2 separate regions of the Homo sapiens genome follow, and region 2 is linked to region 1. The links come from fine-mapping of genetic effects on gene expression. Tissue or cell type: lymphoblastoid cells. Region 1 holds a variant in brackets; the other region holds the start of a gene. All regions are shown on one strand. Distances are from middle to middle.

What was found. PIP is the estimated chance that this variant, and not a neighbour inherited with it, causes the effect.
Region 2: CBR4 starts here. The variant in region 1 is fine-mapped to the expression of CBR4 in lymphoblastoid cells (GTEx, PIP 0.98).

The regions. Positions count from the first base shown.
Region 1 is chr4:168,963,064-168,968,310 of GRCh38, forward strand. It overlaps LOC107986200 (a long non-coding RNA gene), which reads right to left and starts at 3,875. Exons shown (of 2, transcript XR_001741450.1): 1 at 3,830-3,875. It also overlaps a transcript of CBR4 not described here. The variant A/G (reference allele first, on the strand shown) is at 2,951.
Region 2 is chr4:169,007,629-169,012,875 of GRCh38, forward strand. It overlaps CBR4 (carbonyl reductase 4), which reads right to left and starts at 2,627. Exons shown (of 5, transcript NM_032783.5): 1 at 2,320-2,627; 2 at 8-128. The coding sequence starts at 2,461. It overlaps CBR4-DT (CBR4 divergent transcript), which reads left to right and starts at 2,801. Exons shown (of 2, transcript NR_185919.1): 1 at 2,801-2,828; 2 at 3,156-3,432. RefSeq lists enhancers at 1,628-2,577, 2,677-3,006.

The DNA of each region.
Region 1 (5,247 bases):
CTGTAAGTGCTAAAACAGAATTTTAATTCCAGTATTTCAAAATCCATGTTCATTCCACTGAAACTAACGGAAAGGACTGAGGAAGCACTCAGAAAGATTTGGATGGTCAAGCCCTGACTTAAATTGTGGTTGATTTCAGCACAACTGACTGCCAAAAGCCAGTTTTATCCTGATGTTATCATAGCACCTCAGCTAGGAAAAATTAAAATGCTAATAATTTTTAAAATCCAGATACTTCATAAATTAGTCAGATGTTCTTCAAAAAGGTGGGTAACTGTTGAAAGCAGAGTTACTTACTCATTCAGAGAAGATAACAGAACACAGATGTCTTATGCCACAATGGATTGACAATTAGAGCACCTGAGTTCCCAAGAACATTAGCAAATTCAGAAACTCCTGTATAAATCTTTTTTTTTTTTTTTTTGAGATGGAGTCTCACTCTTGTCACCCAGCCTAGAGTCCTATGGTGTGATCTCAGCTCACTGCAACCTTCGCCTACTGGGTTCAAGCAGTTCTCCTACCTCAGCCTCCCAAATAGCTGGGATTACAGGTGCCCACCGCCATGCCCAGCTATTTTTGTATTTTTAGGAGAGACAGGGTTTCACCATGTTGGCCAGGCTGGTCTCGAACTCCTTACCTCTGGTGATCTGCCCACCTCAGCCTCCCAAAGTGGTGGGAGGCATGAGCCACCGCGCCCAACCTCCTGTATAAACTATTAATAGCTACTGTACCATCAGCCACAGAATAGGTTGCTGAGGGATGCTCCAAGACCAAAGAAACAAAAAGCGCCTATGGGAGTATAATTACTGTGTCTCCATGCACAATAAAGATTAGCTGGTTGTTCAAAAACCTTTTTTTTTAATGTCATGCCCAAGAACAGTTGGGGAACATCCAAATCCAATCACAATGAATGGCAGTATTCCCAGGATGGAATAACTAAAATGCAACTGACAGGAAATATAGATCATCAGTAGTATAGTAACCCATCAAGCTAAATGCATAAATGGCATCCAGCACGTGGGAAATTTTGCTCTGACCAGCATGATCAAGCAAGCAGGTATATTTCTGTGGAAATGGCATCTGAGCCATCACAGAACAATACTCTGACAATATCATTCAACTACACTCCCCTTGCTTGTGTTGCATGATTAGACAACTGTCTGGTTAAAATTTAGGCTGTTGTAGAAAACCAAGGTCTGAGTATGCATATGTTCTCTCAAACTCTCTTCCCTTTAACCTCAGCTTTCTTGAGGCCACTAAGTTTTGTCAAAATCAATTGATTTTCTTATGTCATAATGCCAGACACAGAGCAAGGCAAGGAAAATAAAAAATAAAGACGACCTTCAATCGAAACACACAATCCAATGGAAACAAGTAAAGCCTAAAAAGGTATTTTTCTCCCCACAAGCCAATGCACCTTCTCTCTTTGGTAAGCAGTGGTAAAAATGTCATAGAATAGTATGCAATACTCTTCATATCAAAGAAACCCAGCCACTATAACAACCACACAGAAGTCACTATCAAGAGAATGAGTATCAGCTGTAATTCCCCAAACTGAAGTATAAACATTAATATAAGAAATAACTCTAATGGAGGAGAGGACAAGGAAAACTTCTTGGATGATATGGTATTTGAGAGTAGCCTTGAAAACTAAGATTTCAATAAGCAAGAAAAGCTCTGTCAGGAAAGAAGGGTCTCCAAGGTTGAAGAAACATTGATTTAGTAAGTCAACAAATATTTATTGTGCAAGTATGTGTAGATCACTGTGTTCAGCACTTTGAGTTACCATGAACCAGACTCTAAGGCTTATATTTCATTGGTCAGCTTTCAGTCACATAGCCACACTTAGCTTTAAGGCAGTTTGGGACATGTTTTTTGTTTTTGTTTTGGTATCCATGTATCAAACTAAAACTTTGCAGATGACATGACTGTATATTTAGAAACCCCATCATCTCAGCCCCCAATCTCCTTAAGCTGACTTCAGCAACTTCAGCAAAGTCTCAGGATACAAAATCAATGTGCAAAAATCATAAGCATTCCTATACACCAATAATAGACAAACAGCCAAATCATGAGTGAACTCCCATTCACAATTACTACAAAGAGAATAAAATACCTAGGAATACAACTTACAATGAACGTGAAGGACCTCTTCAAGGAGAACTACAAACCACTGCTCAACAAAATAAAAGAGGACACAAACAAATGTAAAAACATTCCATTCTCATGAAGAATCAATATCGTGAAAATGGCCATACTGCCCAAGGTAATTTATAGATTTAATGCTATCCCCATCAAGCTACCACTGACTTACTTCACAGAATTAGAAAAAACTACTTTAAACTTCATATGGAACCAAAAAAGAGCCCACATAGCCAAGACAATCCTAAGCAAAAAGAACAAAGCTGGAGGCATCATACTACCTGACTTCAAACTATACTACAAGGCTACAGTAACCAAAACAGCATGGTACTGGTACCAAAACAGATATATAGACCAATGGAACAGAACAGAGGCCTCAGAAATAACACCACACATCTACAACCATCTGATCTTTGACAAACCTGACAAAAACAAGCAACGAGGAAAGGATTCCCTATTTAATAAATTGTGCTGGGAAAACTGGCTAGCCATATGTAGAAAGCTGAAACTGGATCCTTTCCTTACACCGTATACAAAAATTAACTCAAGATGGATTAAAGACTTGAATATAAAACCTAACACCATAAAAACCCTAGAAGAAAACCTAGGCAATACCATTCAGGACATAGACATGGGCAAAGAATTCATGACTGGAACACCAAAAGCAATGGCAACAAAAGCCAAAATAGACAAATGGGATCTAATTAAAGAGCTTCTGCACAGCAAAAGAAACTATCATCAGAGTGAACAGGCAACCTACAGAATGGGAGAAAATATCTGCAATCTACCCATCTGACAAAGGGCTAAT[A/G]TCCAGAATCTACAAAGAACTTAAACAAATTTAGAAGAAAAAAACAACCATATCAGAAAGTGGGCAAAGGATATTAACAGACACTTCTCAAAAGAAGACATTTATGCAGCCAACAAACATACGAAAAAAATGTTCATCATCACTGGTCATCAGAGAAATGCAAATCAAAACCACAATGAAATACCATCTCATGCCAGTTAGAATGGCGATCATTAAAAAGTCAGGAAACGTGGCTCACGACTGTAATCCTAGCACTTTGGGAGGCCGAGGAGGGCGGACCACGAGGTCAGGAGATCAAGACCATCCTGGCTAACAGGTGAAACCCCATCTCTACTAAAAATACAAAAAAAAAAAAAAAAAAAAAAAGGCCAGGCGTGGTGGCAGATGCCTGTAGTCCCAGCTACTCGGGAGGCTGAGGCAGGAGAATGGTGTGAACCCGGGAGGTGGAGCTTGCAGTGAGCCGAGATCGCACCACTGCCTTTCAGCCTGGACGACAGAGCGAGACTCCGTCTCAAAGAAAAAAAAAAAGAAAAAAGCCAGGAAACAGATGCTGGAGAGGATGTGGAAAAATAAGAACTCTTTTACACTGTTGGTGGGTGTGTAAATTCCTTCAACCATTGTGGAAGACAATGTGGCGACTCAAGGATCTAGAACCAGAAATTCCATTTGACCCAGCAATCCCATTACATTATACCCAAAGGATTATAAATCATGCTACTACAGGGCCGGGCACAGTGGCTCACGCCTGTAATCCCAGCACTTTGGGAGGCCGAGGCGGGCGGATCACAAGGTCAGGAGATCAAGACCATCCTGGCTAACACGATGAAACCCAGTGCCTACTAAAAATACAAAAAACTAGCCGGGTGTGGTGGCAGGTACCTGTAGTCCCAGCTACTCAGGAGGCTGAGGCAGGAGAATGGCAACCCGGGAGGCCGAGCTTGCAGCGAGTCCAGATTGCGCCACTGCACTCCAGCCTGGGCAATGGAGCAAAACTCCATCTAAAAAAAAAAAAAAATCACGCTACTATAAAGACACATGCACACATATGTTTATTGCGGCACTGTTCACAGTAGCAAAGACTTGGACCCAACCCAAATGTCCATCAATGATAGAGTAGATTAAGAAAATGTGGCACATATACACCATGTAATACTATGCAGCCATAAAAAAGGATGAGTTCATGTCCTTTGCAGGGACATTGATGAAGCTGGAAACCATCATTCTAAGCAAACTATTACAAGGACAGCAAACCAAACACCGCATGTTCTCACTCATAGGTGGGAGTTGAACAATGAGAATACATGGACACAGGGCGGGGAACATTACACATCGGGGCCTGTCAGGGGGTTGGGGGCTGGGGAAAGGATAGCATTAGGAGAAATACCTAATGTAAATGACGAGTTGATGCGTCCAGCAAACCAACATGGCACATGTATACCTATGTAACAAATCTGCACATTGTGCACATGTACCCTAGAACTTAAAGTATAATTTTAAAAAAACAGGGAGTTCTATTATTATGAAGGAAAGGAATAATGGACCTTGGAAAACAACCAGCAGTCTCTGCTACCTAGGAAACAGGTCATTGAAAACAGAAATAAGCCAAAAGAAATTTCTAGGATGGTGGTGAAGGAAAGTCCCACTTTAAAAATTGTGCAGCACACTAAAAGCCATTCAGTCTGTACTGGAGCAGGTGGATGGGGAGTAGGCAAGAGGGGGTACTAAAAAGTGTATCTCAAACAAACAAAAACTGATAGACCATGGTATTGAGAGAAATTCTAGAGTGCTGTTGAGTTTGAAGACAGAATAATAATAGACACATTTCAAACTACACAAATATAAAACAAAGCAATTATTAATGCCAGGAAATCTCCAAAAATGAGTATGGGAGGAAACATGATTATAGGATACTCCATGCCTCAACTGTTGTGGTAGCTCATCTCCAAAGACGGCCCTCAACACTACCTGATCTTTATACTCTCTTCTAACCACCTCACTCTCTCACTTTCCATAATGACAAATTCAAACCTCCTCTACTCTCCTCAAACACTAGTGCCTTTCCTTTGCCACACCAAAAGCCAGCCAAGTAATTTCTTAGAGAAAATAAAAGTCATCATTTGAGGTTGGTAATCGTGAATTTAGCATAAAACCAAACTGCCCTTTTTTATGACTTTCTAACATAGCCCTTATATTTTCTACAGGAACAAAATCAAAAGTTTATCATGTAAATTATGGTTTTACCAAACAAGTGTAATAAAAATGCAAGGGAGAAAAGGTTTGTAGGGCATTGCCAAAGT
Region 2 (5,247 bases), 45 kb after region 1:
GACCAACCTGTTAATACCAGCTGCATTTACCAAGAAATTTACTCGACCTAAATGTTTCTCCAGCTCTTCAAATGTATTTTGAACATCATGTTCTTTAGCAACATCACAGCTAAATGCCAAATGATCTCCTACACAACAAAGTTAAATAAGAATTACTTATAACTCAAATTTTAAATTTACTCAATACACATTTGTTAAGCATCTATCTAAGATGGCAGGCCTGTGCTAATCTAGAACCTAAAGATTAAAAAAGTAATGTCATGAGGCCTGGCTTTCATAGAGTTGGTCTAATGAAACTGGGATGCGGGAACAAAGAGGAAATAAAGTACTACTACAGAAAGTTAATTTTAAAATTTTCTTTTTAATCAACAAAGGGGGGAGGGCTTTTTCAAGTTATAAAGGCTCTGTAAGATTCATCTAATATTTATAGCTTTAACACTGAATTCATGCTACCCAATTCGACAGTCTTCTGGGTTTTATATTCCTTTTTTGAAATTTATGTCTAATTCTGTCAGGTTTTTGTTGAATTAGTTTCTTTGGCCCTGAACGGGAACTCTTGGGTTTCTTCTTTTTAAGTGCTACGGATGCACTATGGCACATATATTATAACGACTATTATTCAAACCTGACCATCAGGAGAGATGAGACAACACAGGAAGCTATAAAAATGCTAAAACTACAAACCACGGGGGGAAAAAAACACTTTTTACTAAAAGCAACTGTTACTTACCACTTTTAAAAAATGGTTAAATGCCAAAAAAAAACTACACTTCAAAGGAAAACAAAGCATTCCCTATGTAATCTACCATTTTAATACTCTAAAATGTAGGATTGTTTTTAAAAGCTAAAACAATTCTTTATTTTCTGTCTGACCTTGATAAATATGCTTACACCAACACTACCCCATCAAGCCTTTGGAAACAGTAAGCGACCCGGGGAATTATACTTTCTAGATGAAAACCAATCACTCATGGAACACGATTCAAAGGAATGCAGGGCCCAAAAGCATCCTGTGTCTCTCTTACTCTTGGTTTTCACCCGAAGACTTGTGTCCACAACCACCTTTGAAAGCCCAACTAATGGCTTCAATCCAGTCCAGCAAACACTGATGGCTTGGGGTGACACAGTAAGGGTCACCACTCTTCCCCTCCTTTGTTAGAATGGTAAGGAATATGAGCTTCAAGAAGCATTCACTGACACTCTCCCTGACCTATAACTTACAGAATCTTTTTTCTTTTAGAGAGCCCAATAGTCTCCCAACCAGCACTGAACAGGTGATACCAAACCGATCAATAATGTTAACTTAAAAATGAACAGCCACACCTGGCGTCTATAGTCCCAGGTCCTTGGGAGACTGAGGCGAGAAGATCTCTAGAGCCAGTAAATCAGGAGTTGGGGTCCAGCACGGGCAACATAATGGGAAGCCCTCTCAAAAAAAAAAAAAAAAAACCAGATACACAAAAACAGTAAGAGCCACAAGACGCACCCCTAGGCCTCTATTCTCCCCATGCCTCCCTGATAGTAAATGAAGTATAATTTTGTCCATTCTGGTGATTAAACAAATAGCATCTTCGGATCTAACGTCCTATTTCTCCCTAAACTCAATGAAGAGTTATATTCACAAAATGACTAATCCATTCATAATAAGCCGGAAATAAAAAACCCTGAAGTTTAAATGCAATAAAAAAGAATTTGGCAGAACAAAGTTCAATTGTCCATTTGCAAAACTCACCAAAACAATTTAATAACATTAAAGCAAACCAGGTATATCTCAAAACTGGCTGGTACTCAAAAGGGTTTCTCTATCAAACACTGCTTTGTGCATTCGCGCAGGGCCAAGGCACGGCCCTTGGGCAAAACTGAAGGGAGCCGTTGGTACCTGCACTCCCACCTTTCCTGCCTGAACTCCTTTCGACCCAGCCCTGTCTCCGGGGGCCGAGAACTCGCCCTTTTCCCTACATTAAAAGTAAACTGTTACGTGGCTCTCTCCCACAACAGGGAAGCTCCTCAGCGTTAGCACTAGCCGCAGGGCGGAGGGTGCGTATAGCGGGGCCTCAAAAGACTACGAGGTCTCAAAGAACACCCCAAGTGTTCAGCCCTCGGCGGCAAGCTGCGTGGCCGGCATTCTGCGAGGCATAGGGAGATCGCGGGTTTCTGCACGAGACGCATTCTACCCTTGGAACGGGAGAGCGCCTGCACGCGGCTACATCGAGTAACCCTAGAGCCCTAAAGGCCAGACCCGCTCTTTTTACAAAGGAGATTTTCTTTAGGCGCCTGGACCGCGGCCATACAACTGGACAACTCCAGTTTGGTACCTACCGCCGAGGTCACCGGCGGCGGCTTTGGCCCCTTCCAGGTTTCTGGCAATGACCGCCAGTCGGTAGCCTTTCCGGGCCATTAACTGGGCCACAGCTCTGCCAATGCCTCGGGAGCCTCCAAAAACAGCACACACTTTGTCCATCTCGGAGTCACAAACTCGGAGGAAAGAGGGTAGGGAGTGGGAGCCCCTCTCCAGGTTCCCTCAGGCTTTTAAACAACCGCGGTTCCAAAAAAAAAAAAAAGAAAAAAAAAGGCAAACCGCAAAAAAAAATAACGCCGCTCGACACCTCCTGCAGCCGCACAATAGTAATGCAAGACGCCGTGAAAAGGAGGAAGAGCTCGACGTCGCCGCGTCGACGTCATCACGCACGGACTCTTCCGCGCCACACCTAACAAATACGCCGACGAGAGCTCCCCGCCGGCGGAAGAATGGCCTGGAGAGGGCCTCGATGCTTGCTGGGACCTGTAGTCTTGACGCATGAGAGCAACTGGCGCAGGCGCGCTGCTCGGTGGGGAATGTACTTGTGGCACTGAGGGGGATCCTCTGTCCCCGCTGGGTCATATCAGTCGGGATTCGAGCCCCGGTGACCAATCGACCCGGTTTGTTCGGAACTGACAGGGTTGTCAAGACGCTGGGCTTTCCCTGGCAAACCAAGACGACCTGATCACGTAGTTAGAACCCAGAGAAAGCATTACTGGGCGTGAGCCGGTCGGGGCTCCGGTATTTGCCCTTCGCCCAGGTGTTGTTTTGGCTACAGACTTGATGTCCTACCTGTTGAAGAAGTCCCCAAGAATCGCACCCACACCAAAACCTACCCTACCTGTTCCTCCCCCAGGTTGCTGTAGAAATGGACCTCTACCCGCCCAGATGTTACCATTCATCGCGAAGGGTGTCGTGAAGATGAATGCCCTGTCGAACATCATCCAGCAGGAGGTCAAGGAATTTTAACTGAATGATTGAATAGTCTTGCAAGATCTATGAAACAAGCTTCGGCTGCTGTAGAGAAACAAAAATGGGTTCCTGCAATTCTAAATAAGATGTACTGGGTGCTCTGAGAGTTAATAAGCTAAAAAATTCAATGTTTGTTACAATTATAGTGTAAACAGAAAGCATTTCTGATACAATATTATTTTACTAGATTCAGAAAAGTATGAGCCATGGTCCCTACCACTAAAAAAACTACAACCCAGAACTACAGGACTAATACACATGAAACACTAGGAGGTATCCAAAATCATACTTAGTAAAATGCAAAATTATATTAACACAAGAGCTCCGAGAAAATGGAGATCAGTGAAGAATGAAGGGGTGCATGGAAAAGCTGGATTTGAGGGCTGGATGAGGTTTGAAAAAAGGAAAACAAGAGCAAAAAGTCTATAAATAAGCAAGTTGAGCATTAATTTAAATTTGTTATTCCTATTCCATTTAGATCCAAAAAAAGATTTGAAATGGTTTGCAAAAATACATGAGTATTTGAATTTAAAAGGCAAAGAGGACCACTGCCCCTTCTCCCACAAGGCCAGAACAATAAATTAGGTCAGTGGAAAAAATACGAATAAAGTCATGCTATAAGAATCTATTTAGTATTAAAGAAGAGATTCATAAACTTAGAGTTTCCTGCCAGCGAAAGCAACAAAGGAAATATAATTACAAGTGGTAATTTCTGTAAGAAATCAGCCTCCTGGTTATGCAGCAGAGAAGCCTGAGCAAAACTCCCTCCTCATAGGTCCTCCTAAATGGCACACTAAGCATTGTAGTAGACAGTGAGCTTCATGAAAAGAAAAAGAGATTGTAAGGCTGTTTTCATAGCATCTATTAGACTTTATTAAAAGCAAATACAATAGGAAGTTAAACAATATAAGCAAACAGTCACACATAAAAATTGTGTCTTTGAAACAATATATGTTTGAAACAATGAGGAAACAAGCCTGAGGAAATTTGGGATGGTGCTATATTATAGTCAGCTTTAAAGTCAGGTGCCAAGCATTAAACAGGCCTTTAACTGCAGAAGTAATAAGATAAGAGCTGCATTTAAGAACTATTAGCAGGCCAGGCGTGGTGGCTCATGCCTGTAATCCCAGCACTTTGGGAGGCTGAGACAGGAGGATTGCTTGAGTCTAGAAGTTCAAAACCAACCCAGGAAACACAGCAAGACCCCCACCCCCCCGACCCCCATCTCTACAGAAAATACAAAAAAAAATTAGCTGGACATGGTGGCCTACCTGTGGTCCCAGCTACTCGGGAGGCTGAGTTGGGAGGATCATGTAAGTCCAGGAGGTCAAGGCTGCAGTGAGCCATGATTGCACCACTGCAGTCCAGCCTGCATGACACAGCAGGACCCTGTCTCAAAATAACAGTGTTCTAAAAAACAAACAAACAGTTTCCCAGTGATGTAAAAATGGGTCAGATCAAATTTGTCTATTCACTTTCCTACTATACACTATGCAATCTTGGAAAGAAAAAACTGTTTTACATAAATTACCAATATAAGGGTCAGCCTAAATGCCAACTGTATTCCTGCACCTTAGGTCAAACCAGAGAGGTTTATCTTTTGAACAGTTCTCTCCATTTGCTAGGAAAATGATTATTTTTTTTTCTACACATTGTTATTTTAGCAAAAAAAAATGGTTTTTAGATCTATGCCATCTATCATGAAGATCACTAACACATGATATGAGGTGACATTCAGAATTCTGAAAACCTTCCAACTTTTCTCACTGTATATATACTGTAAATGGATAAGCTGGGCTTTTTATTCAACACATACCTCAGGTTAAACCTCAAGGTTATTATTTATTTTTTTTCCCTCTTAATACAATATCACCACTATCCCGGGTGAGAATACATCTATCACAGCACATCACCCATTAGCTGAGAAGGTTACAGCAGGGGAAGTTTCTCTGTAAGCCCCTGATAGTGAAGTGAGG